7 linked regions of the Homo sapiens genome follow. The gene in region 1 interacts genetically with each later gene. Each region holds a gene or a part of one and is shown in the gene's direction. Other genes may lie near its edges. The genes, in order: CDH1, TNFRSF12A, ITGB7, TMEM79, MAGOH, HNRNPA3 and ARMH1.

The links.
Region 2: changes in CDH1 (region 1) and TNFRSF12A together harm fitness more than expected from each alone (negative genetic interaction), as found in Homo sapiens cells (one large-scale study listed by BioGRID).
Region 3: changes in CDH1 (region 1) and ITGB7 together harm fitness more than expected from each alone (negative genetic interaction), as found in Homo sapiens cells (one large-scale study listed by BioGRID).
Region 4: changes in CDH1 (region 1) and TMEM79 together harm fitness more than expected from each alone (negative genetic interaction), as found in Homo sapiens cells (one large-scale study listed by BioGRID).
Region 5: changes in CDH1 (region 1) and MAGOH together harm fitness more than expected from each alone (negative genetic interaction), as found in Homo sapiens cells (one large-scale study listed by BioGRID).
Region 6: changes in CDH1 (region 1) and HNRNPA3 together harm fitness more than expected from each alone (negative genetic interaction), as found in Homo sapiens cells (one large-scale study listed by BioGRID).
Region 7: changes in CDH1 (region 1) and ARMH1 together harm fitness more than expected from each alone (negative genetic interaction), as found in Homo sapiens cells (one large-scale study listed by BioGRID).

What each region holds. Positions count from the first base shown.
Region 1 is NC_000016.10:68,810,292-68,813,791, forward strand, and holds part of CDH1 (cadherin-1 isoform 1 preproprotein), read left to right. Parts: coding exon 1-50; intron 51-1,392; coding exon 1,393-1,568; intron 1,569-1,843; coding exon 1,844-1,972; intron 1,973-3,021; coding exon 3,022-3,204; exon of another isoform or gene 3,205-3,271; intron 3,272-3,500.
Region 2 is NC_000016.10:3,018,884-3,022,883, forward strand, and holds TNFRSF12A (tumor necrosis factor receptor superfamily member 12A precursor), read left to right. Parts: upstream 1-1,484; 5' UTR 1,485-1,514; coding exon 1,515-1,608; intron 1,609-2,331; coding exon 2,332-2,436; intron 2,437-2,671; coding exon 2,672-2,806; intron 2,807-2,887; coding exon 2,888-2,943; 3' UTR 2,944-3,500; downstream 3,501-4,000. Other genes in the region: HCFC1R1 (host cell factor C1 regulator 1), read right to left, coding at 3,980-4,000. UniProt on the Homo sapiens protein: Receptor for TNFSF12/TWEAK. Weak inducer of apoptosis in some cell types. Promotes angiogenesis and the proliferation of endothelial cells. May modulate cellular adhesion to matrix proteins.
Region 3 is NC_000012.12:53,197,252-53,200,751, reverse strand, and holds part of ITGB7 (integrin beta-7 isoform a precursor), read left to right. Parts: intron 1-298; exon of another isoform or gene 299-305; 5' UTR 306-308; coding exon 309-509; intron 510-2,800; coding exon 2,801-3,002; intron 3,003-3,088; coding exon 3,089-3,259; intron 3,260-3,500. UniProt on the Homo sapiens protein: Integrin ITGA4/ITGB7 (alpha-4/beta-7) (Peyer patches-specific homing receptor LPAM-1) is an adhesion molecule that mediates lymphocyte migration and homing to gut-associated lymphoid tissue (GALT).
Region 4 is NC_000001.11:156,287,325-156,290,133, forward strand, and holds part of TMEM79 (transmembrane protein 79), read left to right. Parts: intron 1-2,809.
Region 5 is NC_000001.11:53,228,519-53,232,018, reverse strand, and holds part of MAGOH (protein mago nashi homolog), read left to right. Parts: intron 1-3,064; coding exon 3,065-3,147; intron 3,148-3,500. UniProt on the Homo sapiens protein: Required for pre-mRNA splicing as component of the spliceosome. Plays a redundant role with MAGOHB as core component of the exon junction complex (EJC) and in the nonsense-mediated decay (NMD) pathway.
Region 6 is NC_000002.12:177,215,794-177,219,293, forward strand, and holds part of HNRNPA3 (heterogeneous nuclear ribonucleoprotein A3), read left to right. Parts: coding exon 1-103; intron 104-184; coding exon 185-395; intron 396-709; coding exon 710-799; intron 800-882; coding exon 883-978; intron 979-1,066; coding exon 1,067-1,147; intron 1,148-1,911; coding exon 1,912-2,052; intron 2,053-3,243; coding exon 3,244-3,366; intron 3,367-3,453; coding exon 3,454-3,500. UniProt on the Homo sapiens protein: Plays a role in cytoplasmic trafficking of RNA. Binds to the cis-acting response element, A2RE. May be involved in pre-mRNA splicing.
Region 7 is NC_000001.11:44,719,714-44,722,902, forward strand, and holds part of ARMH1 (armadillo-like helical domain containing protein 1), read left to right. Parts: exon of another isoform or gene 1-1,085; intron 1,086-2,071; exon of another isoform or gene 2,072-2,189; intron 2,190-2,245; exon of another isoform or gene 2,246-2,466; coding exon of another isoform or gene 2,467-2,534; exon of another isoform or gene 2,535-2,706; intron 2,707-3,189.

The sequences.
Region 1 (3,500 bases):
ATTCACCCAGGAGGTCTTTAAGGGGTCTGTCATGGAAGGTGCTCTTCCAGGTATATCCACTAATGAGAATCTGAATACTCAGAAAGACTCTTAGGTTCTTTGGACCCCAAAGTGTTGTCCAAGCCCAAAGGTTGTGTAACTAAAGCTGATCCTTCCTACGGACAGAACTTCTTGGCAAGCCATTGTTGTGTTATATGCATGTGTGTAACAGTCTACCTGTGGAAACATATAAAATAGGGAGAGTTTAAGAACAATCTTCCCTTTTTTATTATTAATTTTTTTTTTTTTTAGGCTGGGCATGGTGGCTCATGCCTGTAATCCCAGCACTTTGGGAGGCCAAGGTGGATGGGTCACCTGTGCTCAGGAGTTCAAGACCAGCCTGACCAACATGGTGAAACCTCGTCTCTATTAAAAATACAAAAAAATTAGCCGGTCGTGGTGGCGGGGGCCTGTAATCCCAGCTACTTGGGAGGCTGAGGCAGGAGAATTGCTTGAACCCGGGAGGCGGGGGTTGCAGTAAGCTGAGATCACGCCACTGCACTCCAGCCTGGGTGACAGATCCAGACTCCGTCTCAAAAAAAAAAAAATTTTTTTTTCAGAGACAGGGTCTTGCTTTGTTGTCCAGGCTACTTTCAAACTCCCGGGCCCAAGCAATCCTCCCACCTCAGCCCCACAAGCTGCTAAGATTATAGGCATGAGCTACTATACCTGGCTAAGAACAACCTTCCTAATTAAGGAACAGATCTTTACCAGTACCTTAAAGCCCTAAACAATCCCCCTTGGTCACATTCTTTTCTCTCCTCCATAAAGATAACCACACCCTAGGCTGGGTGTGGTGGTTCACACCTGTAACCCCAGCACTTTGGGAGGCCAAGGTGGGCAAATCACTTGAGGTCAGGAGTTTGAGACCAGCCTGACCAACATGGAGAAACCCTGTCTCTACTAAAAATAGAAAATTAGCTGGGCGTGGCGACGCATGCCTATAATTCCAGATACTTGGGAGGCTGAAGCAGGAGAATTGCTTGAACCCGGGAGACAGAGATTGTGGTGAGCCGAATCACGCCATTGCATTCCAGCCTGGGCAACAGGAGCAAAACTCCGTCTCAAAAAAAAAAAAAAAAAAAAAGATAACCACACCCTGACTTTTGTGGTAATCATTCCCTTTCTTTTCTTTATTACCATTTGTGTATTTATACCTGGATAATAAGTTGATAGTTTGAGCTTTCTTTCTCCCCTAGCACTTTGGTAAGAATTCTAGGAATTAGGGAACTCTGACACGGTACCACCCCCATGTCCCCTCCTTTATCCCTCAGGGCAGAATTGGATTAAGCAGTATTGACCCAGTCCCAAAGTGCAGCTTGTCTAAACCTTCATCTCCTTGAACTCTTCCAGGAACCTCTGTGATGGAGGTCACAGCCACAGACGCGGACGATGATGTGAACACCTACAATGCCGCCATCGCTTACACCATCCTCAGCCAAGATCCTGAGCTCCCTGACAAAAATATGTTCACCATTAACAGGAACACAGGAGTCATCAGTGTGGTCACCACTGGGCTGGACCGAGAGGTCAGGGGTCAGGAGGATCCAGAGGGTGTGGAGGACAAATGTGTATTAGCTCAATCCCGTGGACAAAGCAAAATCCTGCTAGGCCAGTTGTCAGTTAATACAGTGATGGTCTAAGCTTTGCATCTAAGCTTGTGCCCAGAGGTTCCGTGCCTAGAAGACAGGCAGGCTGGCATGAAGCACATGGTTAAATATTCTGGTTCCATGTGTTGGGCTGGGCTAGGCCAAAGGTGGCTAGTGTTCCTGGTCCTGACTTGGTTGTGTCGATCTCTCTGCAGAGTTTCCCTACGTATACCCTGGTGGTTCAAGCTGCTGACCTTCAAGGTGAGGGGTTAAGCACAACAGCAACAGCTGTGATCACAGTCACTGACACCAACGATAATCCTCCGATCTTCAATCCCACCACGGTAATTCTATAACTCCTTAGAGGGTTTCCAAAGAAAGGTCTTTTGTTGTTCATGAACTAAGTGTCACCACTGCTCATGGGCGAAGTCTTTGAAAACTCTCTCCAGACTAGAGAATGTTAACTTTAAACTTAAAAGCAAGCATCTTGAGATGGCAGTTGTCTTTTAGTATCTTTTTTCCACCCTTGGCCTGGGGCCAATTGGTGCAAGATTGTGAAGTTGCAAAAAGCACCTACTGATTTCATAGTCTCATGGTACATTTTTATAGCAAATATTACCTGGTTTCATTTCTTTATTGAACAAATATTTTCTAAGTTTATATTAGGCACTGTGTTAGACACTGGAGAGACCATCACACACAAAGATTCCATTCTCATGGTGTTTCTGGTATAGCCAGGAAGACATCTTATGAGAATTATTGTATGCCAAGGATATTACATGCATTCAAGGAGAAGGTATTGAGAACCAAGTAGGGTAAGTTTAAATCATCCTGTATAATGGCCAGGCGTGGTGGCTCACACCTGTAATCTAGCAAGTTGAGAGGCCAAGGCTGGTGGATCCCTTGAGGATGGAGTTTGAGACCAGCCTGGCCAACGTGGCGAAACTCCATCTCCACTAAAAATACAAAAATTAGCTGGGCGTGGTGGTGCATGCTTGTAATCCCAGCTACTCGGGCATCTGAGGCATGAGAGTTGCTTGAACCCAGGAGGCGGAGGCTGCAGTGAGCCGAGATTGTACCATTGCACCCCAGTGCGCCCATTGCCTGGCCTCTCCTTGTCACATCTTCTCCTTGAAGCTTGCTTTCAGTTAGCCAGGTGTGGTGGTGCATGCCTGTGGTCCCAGCTACTCTGGAGGCTGAGGTGGGAGGATTGCTTGAGCCCAGGAGGTTGAGGCTACAGTGAGCCATGATCGCTCAAATACACTCCAGCCTGGTGACAGTGAGATCTTATCTCAAAAGAACAACAAAAAAAGAGGAATCCTTTAGCCCCCTGAGACTCAGCTCTGCTAGCAGTCTTGGTACTTTGTAAATGACACATCTCTTTGCTCTGCAGTACAAGGGTCAGGTGCCTGAGAACGAGGCTAACGTCGTAATCACCACACTGAAAGTGACTGATGCTGATGCCCCCAATACCCCAGCGTGGGAGGCTGTATACACCATATTGAATGATGATGGTGGACAATTTGTCGTCACCACAAATCCAGTGAACAACGATGGCATTTTGAAAACAGCAAAGGTTTGTATGGTACCTGGCAAGATGCAGAAACTGGCATCCTCACAGCTGTTCATACCCTTGTCCCCTGGTATCTTCTTAGAAGTAGATTCGCTTTGGCAGGGGGACAGGGTGACTTTCCCAGATTGTAGTGGACCATGTGGGATTTGCAGTGGCTCTTCCTGCTCATGTAAGAAATCAAGAAACTGTGCTGTGTGTGGTGGCTCACGCCTGTAATCCCAGCACTTAGGGACGCTGAGGCAGGCAGATCACGAGGTCAGGAGTTTGAGTCTCTGCTAAAAATACAAAAATTAGCCAGG
Region 2 (4,000 bases), about 66 Mb from region 1:
TTTTTGTTGTTGTTGTTGTTTGTTTTTGAGATGGAGTCTCGCTCTCTCGCCAAGGCTGGAGTGTGGTGGCGCGATCTTGGCTCACTGCAAGCTCTGCCTTCCGGGTTCACGCCATTCACCTGCCTCAGCCTCCAGAGTAGCTGGGACTACTACAGGTGCCCGCCACCACCCCCGACTAATTTTTTTGTATTTTTAGTAGAGACGGGGTTTCACCGTGTTAGCCAGGATGGCCTCGATTTCCTGACCTCGTGATCTGCCCGCCTCGGCCTCCCAATGTGCTGGGATTACAGGCGTGAGCCACCGCGCCCGGCCTGTTTTGTTTTTTGAGATGGAGGCCCTCTCTGTCGCCCAGTCTGGAGTGCAATGGCGCTATCTCGACTGACTGCAACCTCCGTCTCCCAGGTTCCAGAAATTCTCCTGCCTCAGTCTCCCGAGTAGCTGAGATTACAGGCGCCCACTACCACGCCCGGCTAACTTCTTTCTTTTTTTTATTTTTAGTAAAGACGGGGGTTCACCAAGTTGGCCAGGCTGGTCTCGAGCTCCTGACCTCAGGTTTAATTGTTATACCCCCCGGGCCCTTAACAAAGCTGTAGTGGCCAGGCTAACCTGGGCAACATAGTAAGACCCTGGTCTCTACAAAAAATACAAAAATTAGCCGGACGTGGTGGGGCAGGGCCTGTGGTCCCAGCTACTTGGGAGGCTGAGGTGGGAGGCTCACCTGAGCCCAGAGAGCCGTGATCGTACCACTGCACTCCAGGCTGAGCAAGAGTGAGACGCAATCTCAAGGGGAGGTGGGGGGAAGGAAGCTGCAGTGATCTCTGCATGGATTGGTCGTGTGTCTGATTTCTTTTTATTGTTTGTTTGTTTGTTTATTTATTTATTTATTTATTTATTTATTTATTTGAGACGGACTCTCACTCTGTCGCCCAGGCTGGAGTGTAGTGGCGCGATCTCGGCTCACTGCAACTTCTGCCTCCCGGGTTCAAGAGATTCTCCTGCCTCAGCCTCCTGAGTAGCTCGGATTGCAGGCGCGCGCCACCACGCCCGGCTAATTTTTGTATTTCGAGTAGAGACGGCGTTTCACCACGTTGGTCAGGCTGCTCTCGAACTCCTGACCTCGTAATCCGCCTGCCTCAGACTCCCAAACTGATGGGATTAAAGGCGTGAGCCACCGCGTCCGGCCGTTCGTGTCTGATTTCTATATGTGCTGCCGAAGCGAGCACTCGTGTCTAATTTTTGATTTCCCCACACCACGCACGCTGGACTAGATCACCGGCTGGGCAAGGAAGGGGGTCTGCGTCCCTGCGGGGTCCTGGCAGCTCCCGCGCCAGGACTTTGTTGAATGAATGACTGAACTGAGCGGGCGCCGCGGGGCGGGGCGTCCCGAAGCGGACCTCAAGGCGGGCGGAGGCGAGAGCTCCGCCCCGGAAGGCGGGGGCGGGGGCGGGGCGGCGGCCGTGGGTCCCTGCCGGCCGGCGGCGGGCGCAGACAGCGGCGGGCGCAGGACGTGCACTATGGCTCGGGGCTCGCTGCGCCGGTTGCTGCGGCTCCTCGTGCTGGGGCTCTGGCTGGCGTTGCTGCGCTCCGTGGCCGGGGAGCAAGCGCCAGGTACGCGGGACTCCGGGGTCGGGGAACCCCGGGCCGGGGCTCGGGAGCCGGACTGGGTGTCTGGAGAACAGCGCCGAACTGGGGGAACAGGCGGATGTGGGGATCTGGGGTCAGGTGGCCTTCAAACAGCTCGCTCCCGGCTGTGGGAAGTTCCATCACTCTCCAAGCTTCATTCACAATCCGGGCCTCAGTTTCTCCCACCGTCCAATTGGGGTTGGGGGGGGTCTTCAGTTCCACAAGTCCGAAGTACTTCGAATGGAGAGAGAAAGTGAGTGAGGGCGGGATGTTTAGTCTAGGAAGGGGCACGCCCCCAGCCTGGTCCGTACAGGGTCTAACTAGCCCCAGTGATCGACGAGTTGGGGAGGCCGTCGAGAGGCACTAGGGTCTGTGCCCTCTATACCATGTGGGGTGCCCCCTTCCATCCGGTGACTTCAGTGCCCAGCTATGCGGGGGGAGGGACTGGGGTCGGGCCCGGTGCCCAGGAGTGAGTCACCCGCCGGCGGCAGGGGGGTTGTGGGGACCTGACCCCCCCCACCCCCAGCGTCCCGCGCTACGCCCTCCCTCCCGGAGCTGCCGTGTCCCGGTCGGGCCGTGCGGTCACCTGTGAGGAATGCGCGGGGAGGGCGCCGGTGACTCACGTTATTCGAGCCGGCCGACCCTGACCTCAGACCCCAGAATAGCCGAGTCCCGCCCCCAGCCTCTGACCCGAGGCCCCCTCCCCAGGCACCGCCCCCTGCTCCCGCGGCAGCTCCTGGAGCGCGGACCTGGACAAGTGCATGGACTGCGCGTCTTGCAGGGCGCGACCGCACAGCGACTTCTGCCTGGGCTGTGAGTGGGGGGCAGGGCCAGTGGCCAGCGGACCCCAGACTGGGAGGGAGGGTGGCTGGTGCGCAGAGCGGGGCCGAGAGCTTTGCATCTGGGAAATCATTCGGGAGGAGGTGGGAGCTGGGAGGGGGCTCCGGTCAGGGAGGAGGCCACGTTTGGGAGAAGGCAGAAGGCTCAGTCTTAGGGGGCGGGGCTGGCCTGGAGAGGGGCGAGGTCTGACTCCGAGTCCCGCCCCCAGGCGCTGCAGCACCTCCTGCCCCCTTCCGGCTGCTTTGGCCCATCCTTGGGGGCGCTCTGAGCCTGACCTTCGTGCTGGGGCTGCTTTCTGGCTTTTTGGTCTGGAGACGATGCCGCAGGAGAGAGAAGTTCACCAGTAAGTGTGCCCTGGCCTGCCCAGCCCTGTCAGCACTCGACCTTTTCTCTGCTGCTGACGACCCCACCTCTTATCTTGCAGCCCCCATAGAGGAGACCGGCGGAGAGGGCTGCCCAGCTGTGGCGCTGATCCAGTGACAATGTGCCCCCTGCCAGCCGGGGCTCGCCCACTCATCATTCATTCATCCATTCTAGAGCCAGTCTCTGCCTCCCAGACGCGGCGGGAGCCAAGCTCCTCCAACCACAAGGGGGGTGGGGGGCGGTGAATCACCTCTGAGGCCTGGGCCCAGGGTTCAGGGGAACCTTCCAAGGTGTCTGGTTGCCCTGCCTCTGGCTCCAGAACAGAAAGGGAGCCTCACGCTGGCTCACACAAAACAGCTGACACTGACTAAGGAACTGCAGCATTTGCACAGGGGAGGGGGGTGCCCTCCTTCCTAGAGGCCCTGGGGGCCAGGCTGACTTGGGGGGCAGACTTGACACTAGGCCCCACTCACTCAGATGTCCTGAAATTCCACCACGGGGGTCACCCTGGGGGGTTAGGGACCTATTTTTAACACTAGGGGGCTGGCCCACTAGGAGGGCTGGCCCTAAGATACAGACCCCCCCAACTCCCCAAAGCGGGGAGGAGATATTTATTTTGGGGAGAGTTTGGAGGGGAGGGAGAATTTATTAATAAAAGAATCTTTAACTTTAAATGGTTTGGAGAGGCAGTGATCCCCGACTGACTCCCCTGAGCTGGAGGGAGGGAGTGAGTCAGCCAGCCGCGGGGGCGGGGGTGAGGCTCTGACTCACACATTCTCAATGCCTGGAACTCAGCCGGCAAGGACCTGGCTGGCCCTAACAGTTTTCCAGGGAAGATCTTGAGGAGAAACCCCAGCATCCCGCGCCTCTGCCCTCTCCACCATCCCCAAAAGCCCCAGGTTCCAGACTGAAGCCTTCCTTTGCTCAGCAATCTTTATTCAGTTCTTCTTGGGGGTGGGATGCCTCCCTTCCCATGCTCCCACCCCTCCCATCCCAGAACTCCGTTGGGCTCAGTGTCCTCTGTTGAGGGAAGGTCTTGGTGCCCAGATGCCTACTCTGCAGGAGAGGGAGGAACCTTGTCCCTTTGCGGGAGTCGCTGGTCTCTTCTGTTGTGGGGAAGAAGGAAGGTGGGAGGGGCACTGTCCACCAGCACTCAGAGCTCCATTATGTCCCC
Region 3 (3,500 bases), on another chromosome or scaffold:
TCGCCATGTTGACTAGGCTGGTTTCGAATTCCTGAGCTCAGGTGATCCACCCACCTTGGCTTCCTAAAGTGCTGAGATAACAGGCATGAGCCACCACGTCCGGAGGCCCCTACCTTTGCGTGATACCTGCTCCTTCCCATTATTTTGAAGAAACTGCTGAATCCACAGGGGAAGTGAAACTATGAGGGGAGATAAAGTGTTGGGGCAGAGTTTTGAGAGTGATAACCACAAGCTAAGTTTAGAGGACTGAGAGTTTGAGAGTCCTCCCTGAGGACCCACATGTCCCCCTTTATATCCTATTACAGGGCATGGTGGCTTTGCCAATGGTCCTTGTTTTGCTGCTGGTCCTGAGCAGAGGTGAGAGTGAATTGGACGCCAAGATCCCATCCACAGGGGATGCCACAGAATGGCGGAATCCTCACCTGTCCATGCTGGGGTCCTGCCAGCCAGCCCCCTCCTGCCAGAAGTGCATCCTCTCACACCCCAGCTGTGCATGGTGCAAGCAACTGGTAAAGATGGGCCTATGGTCTTTGAACCATGTGTATGTGTATGTGTATGTGTATATGTATGTGCAGCCTGGATATATGTGTGTGATTGTGTGGGCACATGTATGATTTTCTGGGAACACTCCACAGTCTCATGTGTGACTGAGTTTGTGCACATAGGACTCCTGTGTGTGGATATACGTGTGTGCATACACATGCATGCAAGTTTCTTGTGCACTTAGGATTATGTCTGTATCCATTTGCTTGTGTATATATGGAGAGAATTTGTGACCATGAATTGGGAGAAAGTATGTGCTTGTGGGAATTCATGCTTGTGTATAGGTAGAGGGAGCTGTTGTGTATGTAAACATGGGAGAAAGGTACTACCCAGTGCGGGCTGCCATAACAAAATACCATAAGCTGGGTGGTTTAAGCAACAGGAATTCATTTCTCCTAATGTTGGAAGCTGGGAAGTCCAAGATCAAAGTGCTGGCTGATTTGGTTCCTCAGTTAGGGCCCTCTTCCTTGCTTGCAGACTGGCTACCTTCTCGCTGTGTCCTCACATAGTGGGGATGGGGTTGGGGGATGGGGGTGGGAACTGCCTCTCTTCTTGTAAGCGCACTAATTCCATCATGAGGGTTCCACCCTTAGGCCCTCATCTAAGCCTAGGTACCTCCCAAAGGCTCCATCTCCAAATACCATCACATGGAGGGTTAGGGCTTCAACAGAGGATGGGGTGGGGGTGGGGAGGGGTAGGGGTGCAGAGTTCAGTCCATAGCAGCAAGTGTGTGGTTAGATTTCTAAGTCTGTGTTTTGGGTGGAGGCATTCTGTTCCTGGGTGTGTAGTAGCCTATGACTGGACAGGTAGAAAGGGAAGGGGTGGAAGCATATGGGCTTGAGGGGGACTGGAAAGGCTTGAGCTACCTAAGTGGCCAAGAAGGATGCTAGGGAGCAGGTGTCTCCCTGGCTCTTCAAACAAAGCTGTTGTTTGTTTATGCTTTAAAGAGACAGAACTCATGGAGCAGCAGAGCAGGAGGGGTGCCCAAGCTGGGATGGGGGCAGGTCTGCCTCTCTCAGTGTAAGATGGAGGGTTAGATCAGTGTGGGAGCCCAGATAAGAGATGGGGGCAAATTCACATGGAAGCAGAGCTACAGATGCTTAGAGGACCCAGGAGAAAGGCACACAGGGACCCAGGAGAAAGGCACACAGTGAATCTGACTGGACAAGAAGGGTAGATACTGAGTCTGCACAAGGCAGAGAGGCAGAGGTGCCAGGCTGGAGCTGGGGAGCTGGCGCTCTTGAGATGGTCAGGTCTGTGTCTGGCTTCTCCAGTCTCCTGACACCTAGGGCCAGCTGAGAAGCCGCTCTAACCATTTCCTTCCCCTGTGGCTTCCCAACCAGTCCCAGGGATACCAGACATATTGGTGGGGAGGACGCCTCCTCTTCTGTTCTTATCCTTTCCTTTCCAAGGAGCTGTGGGTCTTAGTCTGACCACCTTCCCATTTTGGTGTGAGCTTGCTGGGGAGGTTGGCCTAGGAGGCAAGGCCCCTGTTTTTTTGTGGTAGTGAAGTCTCTAAGATCTCAACAGGAAGTCTGTGACTCTATTGGGGAGGAGAGGGGTAGGTGGCTGGGGCAAGGGGGAGTTGAGATAGGGGAGGGGTGGGGGACTGCTATAGGAAGTGGGGCTCTGACAAGGAAGAAAGGACCAGAGTTCCACCGGTGGCGGTTCATGCCTGTAATCCCAGTACTTTGGGAGGCTGGGGCAGGAGGATTTCTTGGGGCCAGGAGTTCGAAACAAGACTGGGCAAAAAAGCAAGACCCTGTCTTTACAGTAGGAAAAAAAAAAAAGGCGTGGTGGTTCACGTCTGTAATCCCAGCACTTTGGGAGGCTGAGGTGGGCGCACTTGAGGTCAAAAGTTTGAGACCAGCCTGACCTATATGGGGAAATCCCGTCTCTACTAAAAATACAAAAAACCTGGGCGTGGTGGCACATGCCTGTAGTCCCAGCTACCGGGAGGCTGAGGTACGAGAATCACTTGAACCCGGGAGGTGGAGGTTGCAGTGAGCGGAGATAGCACCGCAGCACTCCAGCCTGGGTGACAGAGTGAGACTCCGTCTCAAAAACAAAACAAAACAACAAAAAAGACCGGAGTTCAAGGGTAGCTGTGGCGAGGAAGAGGGGAGGGAATCAGGGACTCAAGGAGTGGACTGGAGGTGGGGGCATTAGAGGTGGCCGGGTTTGCAGGGTGTTTTTGGGAGCGGGGCCCAGGGCCTATGCAGGACCGGGTCCCGACGCGCCTTTTCTTGCTGAGCAGAACTTCACCGCGTCGGGAGAGGCGGAGGCGCGGCGCTGCGCCCGACGAGAGGAGCTGCTGGCTCGAGGCTGCCCGCTGGAGGAGCTGGAGGAGCCCCGCGGCCAGCAGGAGGTGCTGCAGGACCAGCCGCTCAGCCAGGGCGCCCGCGGAGAGGGTGCCACCCAGCTGGCGCCGCAGCGGGTCCGGGTCACGCTGCGGCCTGGTGAGTTAGGGGAGGCGGGGCCAGGCCAGAGGTCTAGGCTGGCGTTCCAATGCGCTCTGCTGACCCGCCCGCCGCCCACCCCCTAGGGGAGCCCCAGCAGCTCCAGGTCCGCTTCCTTCGTGCTGAGGGATACCCGGTGGACCTGTACTACCTTATGGACCTGAGCTACTCCATGAAGGACGACCTGGAACGCGTGCGCCAGCTCGGGCACGCTCTGCTGGTCCGGCTGCAGGAAGTCACCCATTCTGTGCGCATTGGTGAGCCGAGCGCTGCCTCCCGCCCTGTTAGCCCTTGCCTATTCAACCACTGCCCTAGCCTCTGCCAACATCCTGGACTCACAAGGGCCCCAACTTGCCCTCCCAGTTGTTGACAGGCCTAGCCAGGCCACAGGTTCGTTCCTGCATCTCTCCCTAGACACCCATCTTCTAGGTCAGAGCTGGAGAGGACTCAAGAGACTATCCGTTTTACAGGCCTGAGACCCAGCGTCTGGAGAGACTG
Region 4 (2,809 bases), on another chromosome or scaffold:
AGAATCGCTTGAACCTGGGAGGCGGAGGTTGCAGTGAGCCAAGATCGCGCCATTGCACTCCAGCCTGGGTGACAGAGTGAGACTCCGTCTCAAACAAATAAATAAATAATTAAAATTAAAAAAATATAGAGATGAGGTCTCAAGGTTGGGGGGCCTGGTTGAGGGTACTGTCCTTCTCTTCCTGTTTGTCAATGAGGGGATGGCCCTGGTAGAGGGTACTGTCCTTTTCTTCATACAAACCAAGGATGTGTGAGCTCTCCTCGCAGCCTTCTTACTCTCCACTTTTTTTTTTTTTTTTTTTTTTTTTGAGACAGTGTTTCACTCTTGTTGCCCAGGCTGGAGAGTACAATGGCAGGATCTCAGCTCACTACAATCTCCACCTACTGGGTTCAAGCGATTCTCCTGCCTCAGCCTCCCGCGTAGCTGGGATTACAGGCGCCCACCACCAGGCCCAGCTAACTTTTTGTATTTTTAGTAGAGATAGGGTTTCACCATGTTGGCCAGGCAGTTCTTGAACCCCTAACCTCAGGTGATCTGCCCGCCTCAGCCTCCCAAAGTACTGGGATTACAGGCGTGAGCCACTGCGCCTGGCCCTTACTCTCCTTTCATTCAGACTTTGCCATCACCTAAAATCCTTAGGGGTACTTTGGGAGGCGGAGGCGGGCAGATCATGAGGTCAGGAGATTGAGACCATCCTGGCTAACACGGTGAAACCCCGTCTCTATTAAAAATACAAAAAAATTAGCCGGGTGCGGTGGCGAGCGCCTACAGTCCCAACTACTCGGGAGGCTGAGGCAGGAGAATGGCGTGAACCCGGGAGCCGAGATAGCGCCACTGCAGTCTGGCCTGGGTGAAAGAGTGAGACTCCGTCTCAAAAAAAAAAAAAAAAAAATCCTTAGGGGTATTTTCACATGAACTACTGTTAATCTAGAAGGCACCTTTGAATTTCTTAACCCAAATGCAGGTCTTTTCTTTCCATTTTCCCTAATACATATGCTCTTGTTACTTTTTTTTTCTTTTTTTTTTTTTGAGATGGTGTCTTACTCTGTTACCCAGGCTGGAGTGCAGTGGCGCAATCTTGGCTCACTACAACTTCTGTCTCCAGGCTCAAGCAGTTTTCCTGCCTCAGCCCCCCGAGTAGCTGAGATTACAGGTGTGAGCCACCATGCCCAGCTAATTTTTTTTGTATTTTTAGTAGAGACAGGGTTTCAACATGTTGGCCAGGCTGGTCTCGAACTTCTGACCTCAGATAATCCACCCATCTTGGCCACCCAAAGTGCTGGGATTACAGGCGTGAGCCACCACACCTGGCCTGCTCTTGTTACTTTTGATACAGGATTCCAGGTAGCTCGCTAAAATAAAATATTCTTCCTATTGAGCTAAAATTAGTCTTCCTGTCACTTCTGATTGTGGTCCAGCAGTCAGTTGTCCCACCAGCCTCCTGACCATCATGCAGCCTTGCATTTTCTCCCAATAGGTTTTCCCAAAATAAATATGTTCCTGCTCATGTAACTTAGCCTGCCATCTTAAACTCCTGGGGAATACTGGTTTCAGATAGAAGTTGGCTTAAGCAGTAAAAATCATCAGGGAGCTAAAGGAAGACTCAGTGATTGTCTGGTCCAGGCTTCCCATTTTACAAAGGGAAAATCACAACAGATTAGGGGAAGAGAGTTGCTCAGGTCAGTCGGCAATAGTGGCAGGACTAGAATCCAGGTCCTTTTCCTCTCTTATCCAGGGTCCTTTCTTCTTTACCATGGACAAGTTCATTAAGCAGTTTGTGCCTCAGTTTCATCATCTGTAAAATGAGGTCGTTATGAGGATTAAATGAGTTAATTCATGTAGAGTACTTAAAACAATCTAGTACTTGGTGCCAGGCGTGGTGGCTCACACCTGTAATCCCAGCACTTTGGGAGGCCAAGGCAGGTGGATCATGAGGTCAGGAGATCGAGACCATCCTGGCTAACACGGTAAAACCCCATCTCTAATAAAAATACAAAAAATTAGCCGGGTGTGGTGATGGGCGCCTGTAATCCCAGCACTTTGGGAGGCCAAGGCGGGTGGATCACCAGGTCAGGAGATCGAGACCATCCTGGCTAACACGGTGAAACCACGTCTCTACTAAAAATAAAAATAAAAAATTAGCCGGGCATGGTGGTGGGTACCTGTAGTCCCAGCTACTCAGGAGGCTGAGGCAGGAGAATGGCGTGAACCTGGGAGGCGGAGCTTGCAGTGAGCCGAGATTGGGCCACTGCACTCCAGCCTGGGCGACAGAGCGAGACTCTGTCTCAAAAAATAACAAGAACAACAAAAAAACAATCTGGTACTTGGTTCATTATACTATGCTGCTTCCTAGTGCAGAAGAGAAGCAGCAGTTACTCTTCCCTCCCTTTCACAGGTAAAAAAGAATAGAGGCACATGAATCATGTAATAAGTGGTCCTTCATATATTAAGAAGTGATCCTTCATATATTAAGAGGAAGTTGCTCTCCCCTCCCTCCATTGAGGGGTGTGTATTGAACATATCTTCCACGAAATCTGTGGCTGACCCATCCTCTGGGCTTCAAGCCCTCCTAGAGGTGGCTTCTTTGCTCTCCTCTTTACCTCTGCCCCTCAAATTGGCAGAAGGGAAGGTAATGAACAGGTTTGGGTTCATATCATGGCTTTGCTATTTCCCAGATGTGTGATCTTGGACCAGTCTTACTTAACCCTTGGAATCTTAGTTTCTTCATCTGCAAGAGGATAAATACAATGGAACACACTGCAGCTATAAAAGAATGAGAAAACCATTTTTATATTGATATAAAATGATC
Region 5 (3,500 bases), on another chromosome or scaffold:
AATTAAAATCAATTCCATTAATAATTGCAAGAAGAGTTATAAAGAACTTGGGAATGCATTTAACAAGATGTACAAAACTTGAAAGGGCTTTATAGAAGGACAAAAATATGTATCGTTTTTGTGGATGGCAAGATTCAGTATCATAAAGATGTCAGTTTTCAACAAAGTAATTTATAAATTCACTCTTAATTCAAATAAAAATCGCAGTAGGATTTTTTTCCCTTTAGAATCAAATAGAATGAGCATTAAATTCATGGAAAATCAGAGGCAAGAGTAGCCAAAATAATACTGGAAATTTCTTACAAAGCTGTGGTCATTTGTAGTATGATATTGCCTCGGGAATTGACAGCTAAACCAATGGAACAGAATAGAGAGCCCAGAAACCAACCTATGAATATATGGAAACTTAGAAAAGTGTGCTACAGAGGTGGACTTTCACATTAATGGGAAAAGAACGAATTATTTAACAAATTGTACCAGGACAGCTGACAATGTATTTATGGAATATTTTTAAAATTAGGCCATAGAAATCAAAAATTTTAAACAGAATATAGACTTGTATTATTTCTGGGTAGAGAAGGAGTTTTTAAAACTCCTTAAGGGGTAAGATTGGTAAATTTGACTTCTTTACAACTTAGGTTTGACAAAAGATGGCAAGATAAAGTTGAAAGATAAGCCATAGACTGGAAGAAGTTATCTGCAAAACATAAAACTGGCAAGAGTTCTCCATCCAGAATATATAAAGAATTACAAATTAATAAAAAGACTGTCCCGTGGCAGAATGTGCAAAGGTTATGAATAGATAACTTACAAGATCAAACAAGTGGCTAATATGAAAAGATTTACGGCTTCATTTGTAAAATGAAAGGACAACAGTGAGATACCATTTCAGACCCATTAGAATAAAAACAGAAAAAAATCTGCCGAATTTAAAAAATGATATGAGAAAAGAGTGAGAATAAAATTAGTATAACCGCGTTAGGGAGTAATTTTGTGGCATCTGGCAGCATTTAAAATACTAGGAATTATATGGAGACATATTCACATGTACAAGGAGATGTATAGAAGAATATTCTTGCTACATTGTTTATAGGAATAAAAATTTAAAACTTAAGTTTATTTCAGTAGGGAAATGGAATACCACAAGCATTTAAAACTAATGAGCTAGATCTGTGTAACTCAACATTGATAAATCTCGAAAACAATGTGGAATGAAAAATGTAAAAAGTATGTATAATAAGACCATTTTGTAAAAATTTTAAAGCACACTACCACGTCTAGGCCAGGTGCAGTGACTCATGCCTGCATTCCCAGCACTTTTGTTCTTAATTGGGAGGCCAAGGTGGGAGGATGACTTGAGGCCAGGAGCTCAAGACCAGCCTGAGCACAGTGAGACCTTTTTTTCTACAAAGAAAAAAAAAAAAACCCTAAAAATTAACTGGGCGTGGTGGCGCATACCTGTAGTCCTAGCTATTCGAGAAGCTAAAGGTGCAGTATAGCATGAGCCCAGGAGCTCAGGGTTACAGTGAGCTATGATCCTACTACTATACTTCAGCTTCAGTGACAGAGTGAGATCCTGTATCTAAAAAGAAATAAGTAAAAACATACTACCAAATCTGAAACAAGAGTGGAACAAATCGGGATACAGGAGGGAGAACAGAATGGGAGATGGACATAAACTTTGTAATATTTTACTTCTTTTTTAAAAAAAATCTGACACAAGTATGGCAATAATTTATAAATCTGAGTATTGGAAACATCTCAGTTTTTTCGATTTTCTGATTGAATTATAACAAAAAGGATATATGAATCAAAAAGAAGAAAAAGTAAATAGGCCTCACAAGAATATGAATTCCACAGGGCAGAGATCTTTGGTTTGCTTGGTTTTACTTATCTGTCCAAAGCACTGAGAACAATAGCCAGCACCCAGTAGGCTACACATAGATACTTTTTGAAGGTTATGGTACTCATGTCACTGTTTGGAAATTGAGATCCAACATCATACATGTAGGGAGTGACAAAGTGGGGATCAAACCTAAGGTCTGGAAGTTGCCTAGATAGATTAGATTCTTTGGTTTTTGTTTTTGTTTGTTGTTGTTGGAGACAGGGTCTCACTCTGTTGCCCAAGCTGGAGTACAGTGATGAGATCATGGCTCACTGCAGCCTTGACCTCCTGGGGTGAAGGAATCCTCCCACCTCAGCCTCTCTAGTAGCTGGGACCACGGATGCACACCACCACACCCAGCTAGTTTTCGTATTTTTTGTACAGATGAGGTTTAGCCAAGTTGCCCAGACAGGTCTTAAACTCCTGGGCTCAAGTGATTCTCCTGCATTGGCCTCCCAAACTGCTGGGATTACAGGTATGAGTCACCACACCCAGTCCAATTGTTTGGTATTTTTAAAACATAGGTGTATTCATGTTACTCCACATTGTTGACAATGAAAACTCATACAAAATACTACATAGGCTGGGCGCAGTGGCTTATACCTATAATCCCAGCACTTGAGAGGCTGAGGCAGGCGGATCACCTGAGGTCAGGAGTTCGAGACCAGCCTGGCCAACATGGCGAAACCCTGTCTCTATTAAAAATACAAAAAAATCCATCCTGGCTAACACGGTGAAACCCCGTCTCTACTAAAAATACAAAAAAAATTAGCCGGGCGTGGTGGCGGGCACCTGTAGTCCCAGCCACTCAGGAAGCTGAGGCAGGAGAATCGCTTGAACCTGGGAGGCGGAGGTTGCAGTGAGCCGAGATCATGCCAGTGCACTCCAGCCTGGGCAACAGAGTGAGACTCTGTCTCAGGAAAAAAAAAAAAAAAACCTACATAGATTTTTCCAAATCTGAGAAATGGTAGGGCCTTAAGGGTACAACTTCTTCTAAATATGAGCTGTATTTATCTCTTGTTTCTAGTGCCCAGCACAGTTTAGTGCTCAGAGTGAACTGCCCTTGTTTTTGTGGCCATCTGTAGTCAAGTTTGTGTGATTTGGCAAATGATTAATCCTTCTGTGTGCTTGATGAATAATCCAATTCTACTTGACTTCGATTTTCTAAAATGTTTCTAGGAGCTTGAAATCGTCATTGGAGATGAACACATTTCTTTTACAACATCAAAAATTGGTTCCCTTATTGATGTCAATCAATCCAAGTAAGTGTGCATGATCCTTATATCCAGTTGTGTCTGTTTTGGAGCAGATTGATAAGAAACCTTAACCAAATTGGGACCATTATGGGAAGAGCTGGGGCAAATGCAAAATGCAGGTGGGCAGCTTTGTCCTTCTTGTTAGGGAGGAACCCCAAATTATTTTTGAGGACTTGCTCCTATTACTTTTGGTGTTTCATTCAGCCATTGCTACTGCGAGCTTCTTGTTGACACACACATATAGATTAATGCATAGGAGCAGCCAGAAGAAAAAATGGAATATGCCAAAAAAGTGCTCATGATAAACTGTAGAGTCACCGAGTCTGAATAGCTTTCTCAGTGTGACTGTTGAGACTGGC
Region 6 (3,500 bases), on another chromosome or scaffold:
TGTGACTTATTCTTGTGTTGAAGAGGTGGATGCAGCAATGTGTGCTCGACCACACAAGGTTGATGGGCGTGTAGTGGAACCAAAGAGAGCTGTTTCTAGAGAGGTATTTTAATAATACATTGTGTAATATGTGAAATTGTTGTGAAAGTTTGTTTCTTGACTTAATATATTACTTTATTTGTAGGATTCTGTAAAGCCTGGTGCCCATCTAACAGTGAAGAAAATTTTTGTTGGTGGTATTAAAGAAGATACAGAAGAATATAATTTGAGAGACTACTTTGAAAAGTATGGCAAGATTGAAACCATAGAAGTTATGGAAGACAGGCAGAGTGGAAAAAAGAGAGGATTTGCTTTTGTAACTTTTGATGATCATGATACAGTTGATAAAATTGTTGGTAAGTAGCAATTTATGGTAACTTGAATGAGAAAGTAGAACTGGTTTTTCTGTTTTGAACTAAATTTGCTAAATTGTAATTTTCTGTTGCGTGTAATGGCATTTATAGTGTATAGTCAATTTTCATAGTGTCTGCCTGTGTAATCAGTATCCAGATCAAGAAATAAACATAAACATCTCAGAATGCTCCTTCATTACCAGAGTCACTACCTGATTATGTCTTAATGGGTTACATAATGACAGAGGGTATCTCATATATGTGCTTTTCCAAACATAAAATAACTTTTTGTTTTGTTTGATTGAAAAAAAATTTAGTTCAGAAATACCACACTATTAATGGGCATAATTGTGAAGTGAAAAAGGCCCTTTCTAAACAAGAGATGCAGTCTGCTGGATCACAGAGAGGTGAGTAGGACCATACACATGTATACAGTGGATATGAGTGGTGTTTGTAAGGTTCTTAAAAATCTCCCTTGCCTGTATTAAAGGTCGTGGAGGTGGATCTGGCAATTTTATGGGTCGCGGAGGGAACTTTGGAGGTGGTGGAGGTAATTTTGGCCGTGGTGGAAACTTTGGTGGAAGAGGTAGGCTGTTTATCTTCTAAGTACATGGATACCTGACATTTTGGTAAGTTGAATATATTATTTTAATTCATTTCTTGTTTTTCCTCAGGAGGCTATGGTGGTGGAGGTGGTGGCAGCAGAGGTAGTTATGGAGGAGGTGATGGTGGATATAATGGATTTGGAGGTGATGGTAGGTGGCTTATTTTCATTGATGTTTGATATTTTAACTTTCTTTACTTATTGAAAATTATTTATTACACTTTTCTAATTTTAGTTAAAACTTCAGTGGCTAAATGGTTAAGGTGTATTTCCAAACTGTACATGGAAGAACAGGAACCCTTTTTCCCCTGGAGAGACATTAGCTGCTCTTTTTCAGCAAGTAGTAGGGGTTGAGCTAGAATTGTTCTATTAAGTCTGAGACTATATTTTTCTTAGTGAAATTTTGTAAAATGAAAACTGATTTTCTTTTTTACTATCAGAAGATGGGTTACACATTTATTTTTCATTCTTACTAGTGCAGATACTTGATACTCTATTATTATTAGGTATTACCAGGCTTCAGAGTGCTAAATCAATTCATTGGCTTATTTGCCAGTGGCTTAAATGTAATATAAAACCAGAGTTGAGTAATTCTAGCTATTCAGGAGGCTGAGGCAGAGGGGTTGCTTGAGGTGAGGATTTTGAGACTAGTCTGAGCAACATAAGGAGACCGTATATCTAGAAAAATAAAATAGGGGAACATGGTGGCACATGCCCATAGTCTAGCTACTCAGGAGACTGAGGTGGGAGAATGGCTTGAGCCCAGGAGTTCAAGGCTGCATTGCTGTGGTTGCACCACTGTACTTGAGCCCGGGCAACAGAGCAAGACCCAGTCTCTTACACACACACCAGAATTGAATAACGTGACTATACACTTAAGTTTTTGTGTGGTCTTGTTATTTGTTGTTTTTTTAGGTGGCAACTATGGCGGTGGTCCTGGTTATAGTAGTAGAGGGGGCTATGGTGGTGGTGGACCAGGATATGGAAACCAAGGTGGTGGATATGGTGGAGGTGGAGGATATGATGGTTACAATGAAGGAGGAAATTTTGGCGGTGGTAAGCATTCACTTGTTTTATTTAAATGTTAAATATTCAGTGTTGCTAACAGTTCCCATGACACATATTTGGAAAGTGTTAAAAGCGTTTGATCAAATTTTATGTTCTATAAGAAAAATACTAAAATGGTTGGTAGTTCAAACCAAATTTTCTTGACTTTGCTGGTTATTTAGTAAAATGTACAAATGTACTCAGCTCTCTTTTTTCTTTTTTTTTTTTTTTTTTTTTTTTTTTGAGATGGAGTCTTGCTCTGTTGCCCAGGCTGGAGTGCAGTGGCGTGATCTCAGCTCATTGCAATCTCCGCCTCCCGGGTTCATGCGATTCTCCTGCCTCAGCCTCCCTAGTAGCTGGGACTACAGGCGTATGCCAGCACGCCCGGTTAATTTTTTTGCATTTTTAGTAGAGATGGGGTTTCACCATGTTAGCCAGGATGGTCTCGATCTCCTGACCTTGTGATCTGCCCGCTTCTGCCTCCCAAAGTACTGGGATTACAGGCATGAGCCACTGCACTCAGCCAAATGTACTGAATTTTTAGTTGAGTAGTAAAAAATGGACATTTACCAGTATTCAGTACATGTTTTACGTGTAAAAGATTGGGAGTTTATTTATTGCCAAAATTTTACTTAACTCCTTGGTACTTTTAAACTGGACAACCGGGAATAAATTGTTTGAATACTCCAGACGTGTTGAAGTGAGCAGGTTGCCATCTAGGGCCCAGGTTAACAAAGTACTTTGGGTCTTAATATAATATGTCACAGGTAGTTGAAGCGTTTAAGCAAGCTAGTGTATGTAGGTCATTAAGCCACAATACTGTTAAAAGCTTTCTTAGGAATGCACTGTTTTATTGGACCTAATTAACATGTCAATGACAGATGAGTGGAAGTTTTAACAAGTTAGAATGCCTTCTCATTGTTTTAAATGTTATACTGCTTCAGAATCATAGTGAATGGAACACTGGCAATTTTAATGGTGTTAATGGTAGAGAGAACATGCGCCTAGAGGACAGCATTTAATATAAACAAAATGTTGATGGTCTTTTAATATCCTGACATCAGTTACCCCAAGTGGTGCTACCACAGTGATGTGTATAAGCATGCTACCATAATTCTCAAAAGATAATAGTTACATACGTTAAAAGGGGAAAATGATGATTGTGTAGGTAAACCACACATAAAACCTTTCTGATTTCAGGTAACTATGGTGGTGGTGGGAACTATAATGATTTTGGAAATTATAGTGGACAACAGCAATCAAATTATGGACCCATGAAAGGGGGCAGTTTTGGTGGAAGAAGCTCGGGCAGTCCCTATGGTGGTAAGTACTTTCTTAAATCAATTCTTTAGAGCCTTTTTAATTTAAAAAATGTGCATACTTCTTTTAAAATACTATGTATATTTTCAGGTGGTTATGGATCTGGTGGTGGAAGTGGTGGATATGGTAGCAGAAGG
Region 7 (3,189 bases), on another chromosome or scaffold:
CTCTGTAAATCCACGCAGTCCACATCTCTGACCATCTCACCAGGTGCCCTGTGTCTCCCACTGTGAGAAGGACCACACTCTTCCCCTTTCTGTTGTGCCTGGGTTGTATGATATGAGCATCCATAGAGTGGTGCCCAGTTCTGGGGTGGCCAAGAAGTATAAGGTCCTGGCTTCAAAGCACTCTCAAAGTTGGCCATGGGGCCAGGTGCAGTGGCTCACGCCTGTAATCCCAACACTTTGGGAGGCCAAGGTGGGTGGATCACCTGAGGACAGGAGTTAGAGACCAGCCTGGCCAACATGGTGAAACCCCGTCTCTACTAAAAATACAAAAAAATTAGGCAGGTGTGGTGGCGGGCGCCTATAATCCTAGCTACTTGGGAGGCTGAGGCAGGAGAATTGCTTGAATCCATGAGGCAGAGGTTGCAGTGAGCCAAGATCGTGCCATTGCACTCCAGCCTGGGCAACAAGAGCAAAACTCTGTCTCAAAAAAAAAAAAAAAAAAAAAAAGTTGGCCATGGGGTATACGGGGAGACAGCTGCCACAGTTCTGGCTCTCCAGCCTGTCCAAGATTCAAGCTAGGAAAGTTCTGTAGCTGTGTGAATGAGGACCACAGTGGCCACTGCAGAGCCTCCTCTGGGGTCATCCACCACCAGGCTGGTGGTTTCTAAGCGTGGTCCTAGGCTGCCATGACCCAAGCCTCGCCTGTTGGAATGCAGAATCCAATGAGGTCTTTTCAACAAGATGTATGGAGCATGCATTGTGTACATGGAATGGTTTCAGGCTCTAGGTAAACAGAAGTGAGATGTGTCAGATATGTTCATTGGAGTTCACACACTAGTGAGGAGACCATTTAGTGGATAGTACTAGAATTCTATAGCAAGAATTCTATACGGTGCTACGGGTTCAGAGACATAGGACATCTACTCCTGAGTGAAGAGTGAAGGCAGAGGAGAGCAGGCCAGGGGCAGCTTCCTGAAAGTTGATTTCTCAGCTGAGCCTAGAAGAATGAGTAGCAATAGCCAGATAAAGAAGACTTCTCAGGCCGGGCGTGGTGGCTCACACCTGTAATCCCAGCACTTTCGGAGGCCAAGGCAGGTGGATCACTTGAGGTCAGGAGTTCAAGACCAGCCTGGCCAACATAGTGAAACCCTGTCTCTACTAAAAAATACAAAAATTAGCCAGGCGTGGTGGTGCGCACCTGTAATCCCAGCTACTCGGGAGGCTGAGGCAGGAGAATCCCTTGAACCCAGGAGGTGGAAGCTGCAGTGAGCCGAGATCGTACCACTGTACTCCAGCCTGGGTGACAGAGTGAAACTCCATCTCAAAACAAAACAAAACAAAAAAAGGGCAAAAGAAAGAGAAGGCACTGAGATTCTGCTCTCGGTGGGAAGTCTGATACCTCTAGCATACATACTTTAAGTTGGACCCCAGAAGACAGTACCCTCAAGGTCAAGGTGGGCCAAAAGTAAGCCGGCCCTCAGGTGGTCTTGTATGGATTATATAACTACCAGGTGGTCCAGAGAACCTCAAGTGTTGAATGTGGACAAAGGTAGTCCAGAATTGTTTGTGTCCCCAGGTACCTGATAAAAACAAAAGAAAACTATCTCTGGAAGAAAGTATCATCATCCTAACTCTTAAGTTTTTCCTACACTTAATTTTTCAAATATGAGACCAGTCCAAAGTATAAGATAATCATGCACACAAAGTCATCACTATAAATTGGAACTAGCACACTAGAAAGACTCACAAGACTTCAGCCAAATTATTAGATACAGACTGTCAAAAACTAGGTTTTCTTTTAAAAAAAAAAATCTTATAAACATTTAGCTTCCTAAATGTTTACAAGAAGCTAAAAAAACATGACAGTAGGCCGGGCACTACAAAAAGTACACAAAATTAGACAGGCTTATGAGGCTGAGGTGGGAGGATTGCTTGAGCATGGGAGATGGAGGTTGTAGTGAGCCGCGACCACACCACTCCGCTACAACCTGGGTGACATTTGTGGAGCTACCCCAACCTCCCAAAGCATGAAACACCCCACCCACACGTCTCTCTTTAGTAACAGAACATTCAGCCTTGCCTAGGCAAGACTTCAAAAAATTTAACCATAAACTCATAGTTGTTTTTCTCCACGGAAATCTTTAGTAAAAGGCGAAAGATTTATTCGTTATGAAGAGAAACCAGAGATCTGCCTGTTAGCCTTTTGCCTGGCTTCCCAGCTATTGACTGGTCTCCCTCTACTTACGGTGCCTTTGGACCTGCAGACAGAAGCTTTTCTTCCACTGTAGAAAAGTGTCCTAAACATGTTCTCACTGGGTAAAATCTCCTGACAAAGAAAAAAAGTTTAAATATTATTATTCAAACAGATAACCCTGGTAATAATTCTCGTATCTACAATGCATTCTGGGATGCAAATGAGCTGAGCGCCGGAACAAGAGTTCCTCTAAACCCTCTCTCTCTTACCAGTAAATGGAGAGAGGCACTTGACTACTGAGCTGGGGAGAGCACATGGCCAAGTCCTGTCTTCCATGTAGCCACATGTGTTCAGAGTAGCAGTGCCCGGTGCACAGTGACTCACACCTGTAATCCCTGCACTTAAGGAGGCAGAGGTAGGAGGATCGCTTGAGCCCAGGAGTTCAAGACCAGCCTGGACGACAGAGTAAGACCTTGTCTCAGAAAAAAAATAAAATTTAAATTTAAAAAAAAGTCCAGGCGTGGTGGCTCATGCCTGTAATCCCAGCACTTTGGGAGGCCGAGGCAGGAGTTCTCGGTCACTTTGGGAGCACTTTGGGAGGCCTGAGCACTTTGGGAGGCCTGAGGTCAGGAGTTCAAGACCAGCCTTGCCAACATGGTGAAACCCTGTCTCTACTAAATACAAAAATCAGCCGGGCGTGGTGGCAGACGCCTGTAATCCCAGCTTCCCAGGAGGCTGAGGCAGGAGTATCGCTTGAACCCGGGAGGCAGAGGTTGCAGTGAGCGATTGCACTCCAGCCTGAGTGATGACAGTGAAACTCCGTCTCAAAAAAACAAACAAACAAAAATACTAGCATTTACTGGCTGGGCCCACCGGGCCCAGTGGCTCATGCCTGCTATCCCAGCACTTTGGGAGGCCGAGGCGCGTGGATCACGAGGTCAGAAGTTCAAGACCAGCCTGGCCAAGATGGTGAAACCCCATCTCTACTAAAAATA